Linked DNA regions of Homo sapiens: region 1 is linked to region 2. Evidence: fine-mapped expression QTL. A gene starts in region 2. The other region holds a variant in brackets. All regions are shown on one strand. Distances are from middle to middle.

What was found. PIP is the estimated chance that this variant, and not a neighbour inherited with it, causes the effect. A credible set is the group of variants that fine-mapping cannot tell apart.
Region 1: its variant is the best candidate, but not a certain one, in a credible set for the expression of IGSF22-AS1 in unexposed skin (GTEx, PIP 0.52).

What each region holds. Positions count from the first base shown.
Region 1 is chr11:18,665,765-18,671,140 of GRCh38, reverse strand. It overlaps the pseudogene SRSF3P1. Among named protein-coding and RNA genes, the nearest start is that of TMEM86A, 30 kb to the left of the region's middle. RefSeq lists an enhancer at 2,184-2,685 and a silencer at 3,913-4,113. The variant G/A (reference allele first, on the strand shown) is at 2,469.
Region 2 is chr11:18,704,365-18,709,740 of GRCh38, reverse strand. It overlaps IGSF22-AS1 (IGSF22 antisense RNA 1), which reads right to left and starts at 3,260. Exons shown (of 3, transcript NR_186353.1): 1 at 2,592-3,260; 2 at 2,348-2,463. It overlaps TMEM86A (transmembrane protein 86A), which reads right to left. Exons shown (of 3, transcript NM_153347.3): 3 at 4,956-5,376. It overlaps IGSF22 (immunoglobulin superfamily member 22), which reads left to right. Exons shown (of 23, transcript NM_173588.4): 18 at 58-354; 19 at 1,446-1,534; 20 at 1,745-1,937; 21 at 2,528-2,827; 22 at 3,595-3,924; 23 at 5,203-5,376. The coding sequence ends at 5,273.

The DNA.
Region 1 (5,376 bases), 39 kb after region 2:
CAAACATTCAGTAATTGTTACCATAATTAATACCCTGTCTCGGGCACAATGCTAAGTGCTTCATATGTAGTATCTTATGTAATTTTGATGTCAACCCTGTGAAACAGAATTGTCATCTCCTATTACATATAAGCAACATCCCTGGTCACTGTATCATTTTATCTTATTTTATTGTTTTTGTTTGTTTTTTGTTTTGAGACAGGGTCTCACTCTGTTGCCCAGGCAGGAATGCAGTGACACCATCACGGCTCACTGCAGCTTCCACCTCTCGGGCTGAGGTGATACCTCCTGCCTCAGCCTCCCAAGTAGCTGGGACCACAGGTGCACACCACCACACCAGCTAATTTTTTGTTTATAGTAGAGACAAGGTCTCACTATGTTTCCCAGGCTGGTCTCAAACTCCTGGGCTCAAGAGATCCTCCTGCCTTGGTTGGGGTTACAGGCGTGAGCCACCATACCCAACCATCTTATCTTATTGTCTTTTTAGTATCTACTACCATTTCCATATTACACCATTTATTAGTTTTCTTGTTTATTGTGTCTCCCCAACAACCCTGCATGCCTGAAAGTTCTAAGAGATAAAGAGACTTTGTCTTGTTCACCACAAAATTGCAGTGCCTAGTAGTAAATTCTCAATAAATATTTTTGAATACATGTATCATCAAATGAATGAAAAGGAGAGGTGAGGCCAGATGTGATGGCTCACGCCTGTTACCCCAGAACTTTGGGAGGCCGAGGTGGGTGGATCACCTGAGGTTAGGAGTTTGAGACCAGCCTGGACAACATGGCAAAACCCCGTCTCTACAAAAAATACAAAAAATTAGCCGGGCGTGGTGGCAGGCGCCTGTAGTCCCAGCTACTTGGGAGGCTGAGGCAGGAGAATGGCGTGAACCCGGGAGGCGGAGCTTGCAGTGAGCGGAGATTGCGCCACTGCACCCAGCCTGGGCGACAGAGCGAGACTCCATATCAAAATAAAATAAAATAAAATAAAATGAGAGGTGAACTTGCTAGGACAAGGTCACACAGCAAGTAAGTGACAGAACCAGATTTGACATCAGGTCTAGATGGTTCTAAAAATCAATATTTACTTCTGCTTCCCAGAGCAGCCACAGCTGGGGGGAAAAAGCTGTAGAGGGCAGGGAGAGGGAGTGGACAACATTCAGCTCCCTAAGCCAGCGCTTCCCCTCTCTCCTCCCATTGGTCAAGTGACATCACAGCTGGCGGAGTCGACATTGATATCCAAGGTGCTTTATGGACTAGCAACCCAGCTCCAGGTTGCACTTACAACCTCTTATGTCTCCACATCTAAGGGAGAGTAAATCTGTCTGATAAATCCCTGGGAGTTACGTCATTGATTAAAGGCTATGTGCATCTCTTCTTTTGATATTAATCCAAAGAGGATGCACCAGTCTCTACTCACATAGTATTTTCTCACACTTTCACAACAGAGTACTAGTAATCTTTTTTGATATTTTAATTTTTGCCAGTCTGAGAGATGCAGCTGGAGACTGCAATATTCTAAACCTCCCCAAATTGCTCCCGGGGATAACATCTTAGGTTACAGTAAAACCTAAGATCAGTGCTTGAGATAGTTTGCAGATCCTGTACTCGATGGATCAGCTGACACCACCCAGATCAATAAACTGGCTCATCTGGTCTTGTGGCCCCCACCCAGGAACTGACTCAGCGCAAGAGGACAGCTTCAGCTCCCTATGATTTCATCTCCAACCTGACCAATTAGCATTCCCCACTTCCTGAGACTCTACCCACCAAATTAACCTTAAAAACTCCAGTCCCTGAATTTCTGTGACCAGTCTCTGCTCTACATAGTATTTTCTCACACTTCCACAACACAGTATTAGTAATCTTTTTCATATTTAAATTTTTGCCAATCTGAGAGATGGAAAAGAACTCATTTTAGGTTGACTAATTCAATTATGAGTAGGACTATGCATTTTTTTCTTTTTCTTTTTTTTCTTTGTTTCTTTTTTTCTGAGGCAGAGTTTCACTTTTGTCCTCCAGGCTGGAGAGCAATGGCACGATCTTGGCCCACTGAAACCTCCGCGTCCCGGGTTCAAGTGATTCCCCTGCCTCAGGCTCTTGAGTAGCTGGGATTACATGTGCCCACCACCACGCCCAGCTAATTTTTTGTATTTTTAGTAGAGATGGGGTTTCACCGTGTTGGCCACGCTGGTCTCGAACTCCTGACCTCAGGTGATCCGCCTGCCGGAGCCTCCCAACGTGCTGGGATTACAGGCGTGAGCCACTGCGCCCAGCCCGTCTTTTCTTGTTTATTAGCCATGTATAAGCTGTTTGTCTGTGAGCTGCCTGTTCCTGTCTTTTGCTAATTTGATTTGAGATTCTGCATGAGGACCTAGAGCGGCCCCAAAGTCCCACACCCGTCCGCTCTTCTCTCCCCACTATCAGCCCCTCCCCCTGCTCTGCTCGGTTCTCTACTGCTGCCTAGT[G/A]ACAGGGGTTAGTCTTACCACAGGCCTCACAGACGCAACTACTGCCTGCCTCTCCCTGAGGATAAATTTCCTGCTGGAATCATGCCCTTGATTCCTAGGTGGGATTGCCAGGTGTAGTTAATAAGAATGCAGGACCTCCCGTTAAGTTTTTAGGATTGCCAGGTTTAGTTAATAAGAATGCAGGATCTCCCGTTAAGTTTGAATTTCAAACAAGCAAGTACCTTTTTAGTTGTGACATACTTTTATCCAAATTTAACTGAGTGTCCTGTAATATATCTGGCAACCCTATTCCAAGGCTTCCCATTAAATTTCAGTCCCCACCCTCCACCATTCCTCACTGGCTCTCATTCTCAGCAAGTTCCATTCTACTACATTCCTCCCCAGTGGTTTCCTAAATGGCACGGTTAGGCGGTACATGAATCACCGTTGTTAAGACCTTGTCTCTGGCTCAATCCTGGGTTTGAATCCTAGCTCCAAACACTTTGCTAATTTCTTTTAAAACTGTATCTAGTCAGAACTTAATCATTTTATTGCATATGTTTTTACAGTTGCCTTCTATTTAAGTCGAGTGATAGTGAATTCCCAGATTTCTTTTTAAAACAGATTTAAGGCCAGGCACGGTGGCTCACGCCTGTAATCCCAACACTTTGGGAGGCCAAGGCGGGTGGATCACGAGGTCAGGAGTTCAAGACCAGCCTGGCCAAGATGGTGAAACCCCATCTCTACTAAAAATACAAAAATTAACTGGGTGCAGTGGCAGGCTGAGGCAGGAGAATCGCTTGAACCCAGGAGGCAGAGTTTGCAGTGAGCCAAGATCGCACCACTGCACTCTAGTCTGGGCGACAGAGCAAGACTCCGTCTCAAAAAAAAAAAAAATGAAAAAAAAATTTAATCTTTAAAAACCTGAAGAAAAGGGATTGAATAGTACAGATAATAAGTGGAAATGGCAAAAGTCATAAGGCAGCTTCTGAAATGATTAAAGTTTGGGAAATACTGTCCTGTTCCCATCCTGGGAGTCAACACAGATCAGCACAGTGCTGACTGAAATAATGTGCTCCTTTTGTAGCAGGACAAGCTGTAGACAAAACCCCTCAGACACTGAGTTAAAGAAGGAAGGGCTTTATTCGGCCAGGAGATCGGCAAGACACATATCCAAAAAACCAAGCTCCCGAGTGAGCAATTCCTGTCCCTTTTAAGGGCTCACAACTCTAAGGGGGTCCACATGAGAGGGTCGTGATCGATTGAGCAGGTGGGGGTACGTGACTGGGGGCTGCATGCACTGGTAATCAGAACGGAACAGAACAGGACAGGGATTTTCACAATGCTTTTCCATACAATGTCTGCAATCTATAGATAACATAACTGGTTAGGTCAGGGGTCAATCTTTAACCAGGCCCAGGGCACGGTGCCAGGCTGTCTGCCTGTGGATTTCATTTCTGCCTTTTACTTCTTCTAGTTTTTACTTCTTCTTTCTTTGGAGGCAGAAATTGGGCATAAGACAATATGAGGGATGGTCTCCTCCCTTACTTTATGTGGCCCTGGTTTCAGGAGGAACCTTCATAACTCAGAGGGTGCCCAGGGGAGGAGGGAAAACTCAAGCATATATAACTGTTTCATTTGGGGGCTGTGGCAGTGTAACGACTCAACAGGTTTTCCTTGCCTGCTGCCTAGACAAAGCTGATGCATCAAGACAGGGGAACTGTGGCCAGGCGTGGTGGCTCATGCCTGTAATCCCAGCACTTTGGGAGGCTGAGGTTGGTAAATCACAAGGTCAGGAGTTCGAGACCAGCCTGGCCAACATGCTGAAACCCCGTCTCTACAAAAAATACAAAAAATTAGCCAGGCGTGGTGGCAGGCTCCTGTAATCCCAGCTACTCAGAAGGCTGAGGCAGAGAATTGCTTGAACTCAGGAGGCAGAGCTTGCAGTGAGCCAAGATCTCACCTCTACACTCCAGCCTGGGTGACAGAGCGAGACTCCCTTTACTTTACTTTCTTAATAATTTACTTAATTCCTTTACTTTCTTAATAAACTTGCTTTCACCCCGTCTCAAAAAAAAAAAAAAAAAAGAAAAGACAGGGGAATTAGAATACAGAAGGAGTTTAATTCATGCAGAACTGGCTGTATAGGAGACCAGAATTTTATTATTGCTCAAATTAATCTCCCCAAAATTTCAGCAATCTGAATTTTTTTTTCTAATACTTTATTAATTCAAAAGCACTTTACGAGAAAATATAAGTATGGCTTCCAATAGGAATGTTATACCTGGACTTGGTACCAAGCTCAGCTCACAGATTTGAGTTTGCAAGGAAAAACAGGCTTTCAAGTTAAACAACAATTTGTAACCAAAACTTTAATCCCAAGGATTCTCACAAAACATATTACAAATGACAGCATGAAAAAAAAATCTTGCACAGTAACTCAAAGTTCGGCTCTACAATGTATCCTTAAACTGGCAGGACATTTTTGAAATCTCAAATTTGCACATAAAAAATGTCACGAACAGCCATGTATTCATATACAGCAATCAAATAAGTAACTTATGACCTAAAGCAAAGGCAAACTTTCTTGAAACTTAACAGATTCTATACCAACTAGGCAACCTCTGCCCAGGATGAAAGTGAGTTGGATTTTTCAAAAACCTGTAATTTAATAGTGCAGCGTTTATTTTTACCTGATGGCTTGTGTTTCACAGCAGTTTTTAAAGACTGCTTGTTCAACTATAGCTGCATCCTATATCCCAGCTACGGAAAAAAAGTAAATCTTAGTTCAATTTTTGCCAGTTGCTTCTGTATTAAAAAAAAAAAATCACACTTCTGCTGGGCAGGTTTAGAGGTTTATTGTCAGTCTATGCGTAACTAAAGTTCAAAGCAAATTCAATCTTGCTTAAGGGAACATTGTAAAGTAACA
Region 2 (5,376 bases):
CAAGGCATTGAGTGGAGATGAGTTGGAGGGGCTGACTACATGTCTGTTCTACCCCAGAACCCCCAGGCCTGGTCCAGGACCTGCATGTATCTGATTCCTCCAACTCCAGCATTTCCCTGGCCTGGCGGGAGCCTGCAGAGGGAGACCCACCCTCTGGCTACATCCTTGAGATGAGGGCTGAAGACACAAAGGAGTGGTCCAAGTGCACAAAGATCCCCATCTCAGGCACCTGCTACACAGTGGGAGGACTCATCGAGAGGCAGAAATACTTCTTCCGAATCCGGGCTGTGAATGAGGCTGGGGTTGGGGAGCCTGTGGAGCTAGACAAGGGGGTCCGTGCCATGCCACCACCAGGTGAGGACACAGAGAGGGCTGGGGATTCATGCCCAACATTGTACCTCCAAACCTTCTCCTCTGGGGCCTCATCCCACAGGAAAATTGGATGATGCTAGGATCATGAAAAAGTCATCCATAGTTGTTGTGCCTGGACAAAGTTAGGGGTAACTTCAGGGGCACCCCTACTAAATCAATCATTGTGTGCCAAATAGCATCTACTGTGTGTCAAGGTGTAACCACCCAATGGGTTCTTCTTGCGCATTGTACACGCAAAACCAGTTCACTGAGACCACAGCATTGCAACAAAGAGTTTAATGGACACAAGGCCAGCCATGCTGTATGGGAGACAGAGTTATTACCCAAATCAATTCCCCGAAAATTCAAAGTCCAGGGAGCCTGCTTCTGACTGGGGCCTCAGGACTTGTGGGGTGGAGGGAGAGCAGGTCCAGGTGGAGCCATCAGTCGTCAGAAATGCAAAAACCTGAAAAGACATCTCAACCACCAATCTTAGGCTCTACAATAGTGATGTTATTTGCAGGAGCAGCTGGGGAGTTGCAAATCTTGTGATCTCTGGAATAATGGCTGGTAATCTTTTATGTCTACACCTTAGCAGAATTCAGGCTCCTCACATCCTCCTAACCTGGTGGCCTTTCATTAGCTTCGCAAAGGTGATTTAGTTTGGGGGAAGACTGTTATCATCTAAGCTATAAACTAAATGTCTCTCCCAACATTAGCTTGGTCTGAAACCAGGAATGATTAAGGGCAGTTTGGAGGGTAAAGGCAAGATGGGGGTTGGTTAGATCAGATCTCGTTCACTGTCATAATTTTCTCGCTGTTATAATTGTTGCAATGGCAATTTCAAAAGGAGGTGTTAGGGTTATAGAAACAAGACACAAGGACTTGCCTTCCAGGGTCTTGCGTACTAGTAGAAGGAGACAGATGAGAAAACAAATAAATGCTTCACAGGGTTGCAGGGCAGCTAGATGTCTGTATGGCCTGTAGTGGGGGCATAAAGGAGGAGAGGTTGGGAAGGCTTTGATGAGGAGGCTTAAAGCAGAGTCTTCTTGAAAGACAGATCCATGCCTCCACCTCTGTCTCCTCCATCTCAGCTGCACCCAAGTTTGACCTCAGTGCCCGGCTGAAGAGTCACATGGTGGTTCGCGCTGGGACAGCCCTCTGCATCCATGCAGCCTTCTCTGTGAGTTGTCCCTGACCCTGACCTCCATACACTGTCCACATAACCAAGATGGCTATTGTAGCCATCACAGTCTCTGACTCTGACTCTGACTCTGCCCCTCACCAGACCCCTAGTGCGACAGCCTGGCAGGAAACTCCTCGACAATGGAGGAAGGCCTGCCCCCAAATATCATCTGTGTGACCAGTTGTGCCATCTCCTGTCACTACTCAGGGCTCACCACCACCTGACGTGATCTGGCAGAAAGATGGCGTTCCCACCAAGGGCCGAGAGACAATTACCAAGAGCAAAAACCACTCCCAGTTCCTCATTAATAGCACCAAGCGCTCTGACTCAGGGGTGTACCGAATCTTGCTTCAGAATGAGTTTGGAGAAGCACGCTATGACATCCATGTGCGCGTGGCAGGTATGGAGAGAAGGCAGAGGCCTCCAAGACCCATCCCTGTACACTCTCCAAAGCACAGCTCCCCAGTGCCGCTTGAGTTCCTACCACAGGAAAGTCATGCCTTAGGGCCATGAAGATTTCTTTGACACCACAGAGCAAGACTTTATCATACAGAGTATGGTCGGCAGAGAGAGTAGAAATGGGTGGAGGGGCAGGAGGGACAAATGGAGATGAATCCATTAAAAATTGGGGTGACTGCTTAAAGAGAGCTGGAAGCTTTAAAATAAAGCTCTAAACCCCCAAGGAAGGAATGGATTCATTTTTACTGAACAGTAACTACATGCCAGTCTCTTTACCCACTATTTCTACGAAATAGTCATTGTCAGCTCTATTTTGCAATTGAGGAAAGAAGTCTCAGATAAGTAACTTACCCCAGGTCACGAGGCTAGTAAATGGCAGAGCAGACTTCAGAAATAGTTTTCCGACTCCAAGACACCAGCTGCCTGAGACTTGCCCCATCTTATCTTCCATCGGACTTGGCAGATGGCTGGGGTGGGGACATAATACTTCAGGTGCCCCAAGGTCGCTGACAGATCTTCCAACTCTTCCAGATTTCCCTCGGCCCCCCACAAACCTACGGTTGTTTGAGGAAGTCCCCAACACAGTGACTCTGACCTGGAACCACAGCCCAGATGTGCAGGAGGACGGTGAGGCTCACTACATCATCATGAAGCGGGATGCAAGCACAGCCACCTGGTACACGGCAGCCGAGCGTGTCTTCAGCAACAAGTACACAGTGACGGGGCTGCTCCCAGGCAGGAAGTACTACTTCAGAGTGGTGGCTCGGAATGAAATCGGTGACAGTGAGCCACTTGACTCCAGGGACACCTGGCTCATCAATAAGGACCAGAGTGAGTCTGGGACTTGCAGTTAGGGTTAAGTCTGGGTGCCCTGATGGTGGGGATGACATAAGGGTCCCAAAGGGTACCCAAGAGGCAAGATAAAATCTGAAAACCATTGAGATAGAACGGTTAATATCTGGGACGCTGCGGAGAGAAGGAAATATTGGCTTTCTTCGGGGTACTTAGGGGTGAGACTAAAGTGGAGGTGGGGAGGTACCTTTGGGGGCAGAGAGGACGGTGGAGGGGCTGCGGAGGGACATAGAGCGCAAACGCGTTCTGCTCTGAGGGGAGGGTCTAACGGGGCTGAGAACAGGGGAGGGCTCTAGGGAGCCGGGAGGATGTCTGGGATCCCTGGAGGCTAGGGGTTAAGGGTGGGGGCCGCGTCGGGAAACTCGAACTGAGGAGCTAAAGGGATAAGAGGGGAGACTGTGGTCGCTGATATGACGTAGGGGAAGCTTGGAGGCGGAGTTAAAGGCTGGGAATAACCGGGTCCAGGAAGCTGGCGCTGGAATGACATCTCGGCCCCAGGGGTGTGGGAAAGCGTGGTTTGGGTGGCAGAACCCTGGAGTGGCTGGGGACGGGGCTGGGGGGTCGGGGGAGGCCTGGGGGCGGGTGGGGAGCCCTTAAGAACCAGTGTAACATTGGGCCCCCAGAGTTGGTGGCGCTGGGAATGTGGCCTAGGTCCTCGGGGTTCCGTGTAAGCTGAACTGTAAGACGTGGGTGGTGGGTGGGGGCCTTGGGGCGCCCTCACGGCCTGCCCCGCCCCGCCCGCGCAGTCCAGGACCTGAGCGCCAAGCTCAAGCCCTACGAGAAGAAGGACTGGCGCCACGCGCCGCGCTTCGTGACGCCCCTCAAGCCACACACGGTGCTCCGCGGCCAGGACTGCACCATGACCTGCGCCTTCCTTGGGAACCCGCGGCCCACAGTGACCCTCTACAAGGGCGACGTCAACATCACGGCCAACTCCAAGTTCTGGTACAACTCCACCAGCGGCGTGTGCACCCTCGTCATCCCCACCTGCACGCTCAAGGACAGCGGCGATTACAGCGTGCTGGTGGAGAACGAGCTGGGCAAGGACCGCAGCAGCTGCACGCTCACCGTCTATGGTGAGGGCGCCGCGGGGTCCGGCCTCGAGGAGGGGGAGAGGCGCAAAAGGCTGGTCTTGTGGGCCATTGGTCAACTATTTGGCTGGCACCGTTTTTTAATCTGACTGCCAACAGGTGGTGCAAACATTCTTAATTGGCCACAGTTCTTACCACTCTCCCATCCTTTCGATGTCATTTGTTATATGCCTGGCCCCTGCAGACATGAGAGTTCTCAATCCCTAGATAAGATGTGGTTTGCAACTCTTGGTGAGCCTAGACCTGCCTTCAGAAAAAAGATACTGGTGATCAGGACTCAACCAGACTCACCAATCACGATCTCTCTGGCACGGTTCTGGAAATAACCTATATGTTTACAAAATTTTGCGGGTGATTCTGATGTGCAATAAAAATTAAAACTGGTCTAGGATAAGGACCGGTGGGGGGCACAAACAAGGGAAGGAGCGAAGGGAACCCTCCCTTTTGTACATGCATGCCATGTTTCTACTCATGTGTGCACACATAGGGGGAAGCATTTTATTCCTTCCCAGTCTACTGTCTTCATAGCCACACAGCTAGCAGCATGAACTCTAAATGCAAAGCTGGCCTGCCTTGCTTTCTGTTGCTTAAATTTCCCCCAGCTTTCCTCTCATGGTAAAATCCCAAACCAAGAAGGTTTCCCCCTCCCCCACCTCTCATCTCACCTTCTGCTACTCCTGAACCTTCCATGACACTCCATTGCTGTGGTCTCCATGGTTACAGACCTTTTTTATCCAGTTATAGATACCTTTCTTTGGGGAAAGGACCTTGTCCTGTTGCTCTGTCTCTCGAGTGCTTAGCTAAGTGTCTGGCACTGAGACAATATCTCCAGAGAGGCTGCTGAGCTGTGTAAAAGAACTAGGCCAGGGAAGGCACTGTGGGTGCTATCCAGCTTTCATTCCACAGCTAAAGAGATCCCTGATAACTCAAATCTGCTTGTAAGCACAGCAAATGGGCCCAGGGCCCTGGCTCTGCCACTGACCAGCCATGTGACCTTAGTAAGCTACCTCATTGAGCCTGTTTTCTCATCTTCTTTATAGGACTATGAGGCTTAAATGAGACAGTACACAACTGCCTGGCACAATGTCTGGCAAATATTAAGTGCTAGATAAATGGCAGCTCTTGCCCCTTCACACTCTGCCAACCCAAGATTAAGGGTCCCAGGGTCCAGCTCCTGGTTTCCTGCATAGGAAGTCCAGCAGTTTGGAATTTCCCTGGTCGCCAGCATCATTAATATAACGAATACTTCCTTTGCTCTTTCAGACAAAGATGATAAGTCAGTTGTAGCATCCATCACCGAGAGTCTGCAGAAGAAATCAAAGCACCTCATGTGAGCTCCAGCCAAGCCCAGGCATCAGGAGGCTGTTATGATGTGGAGTTTCTTGGCCTGTCCTCTGCATGGCCCAGTGTAGGAAGCCCAGTTTGCTCTCTGGTGTT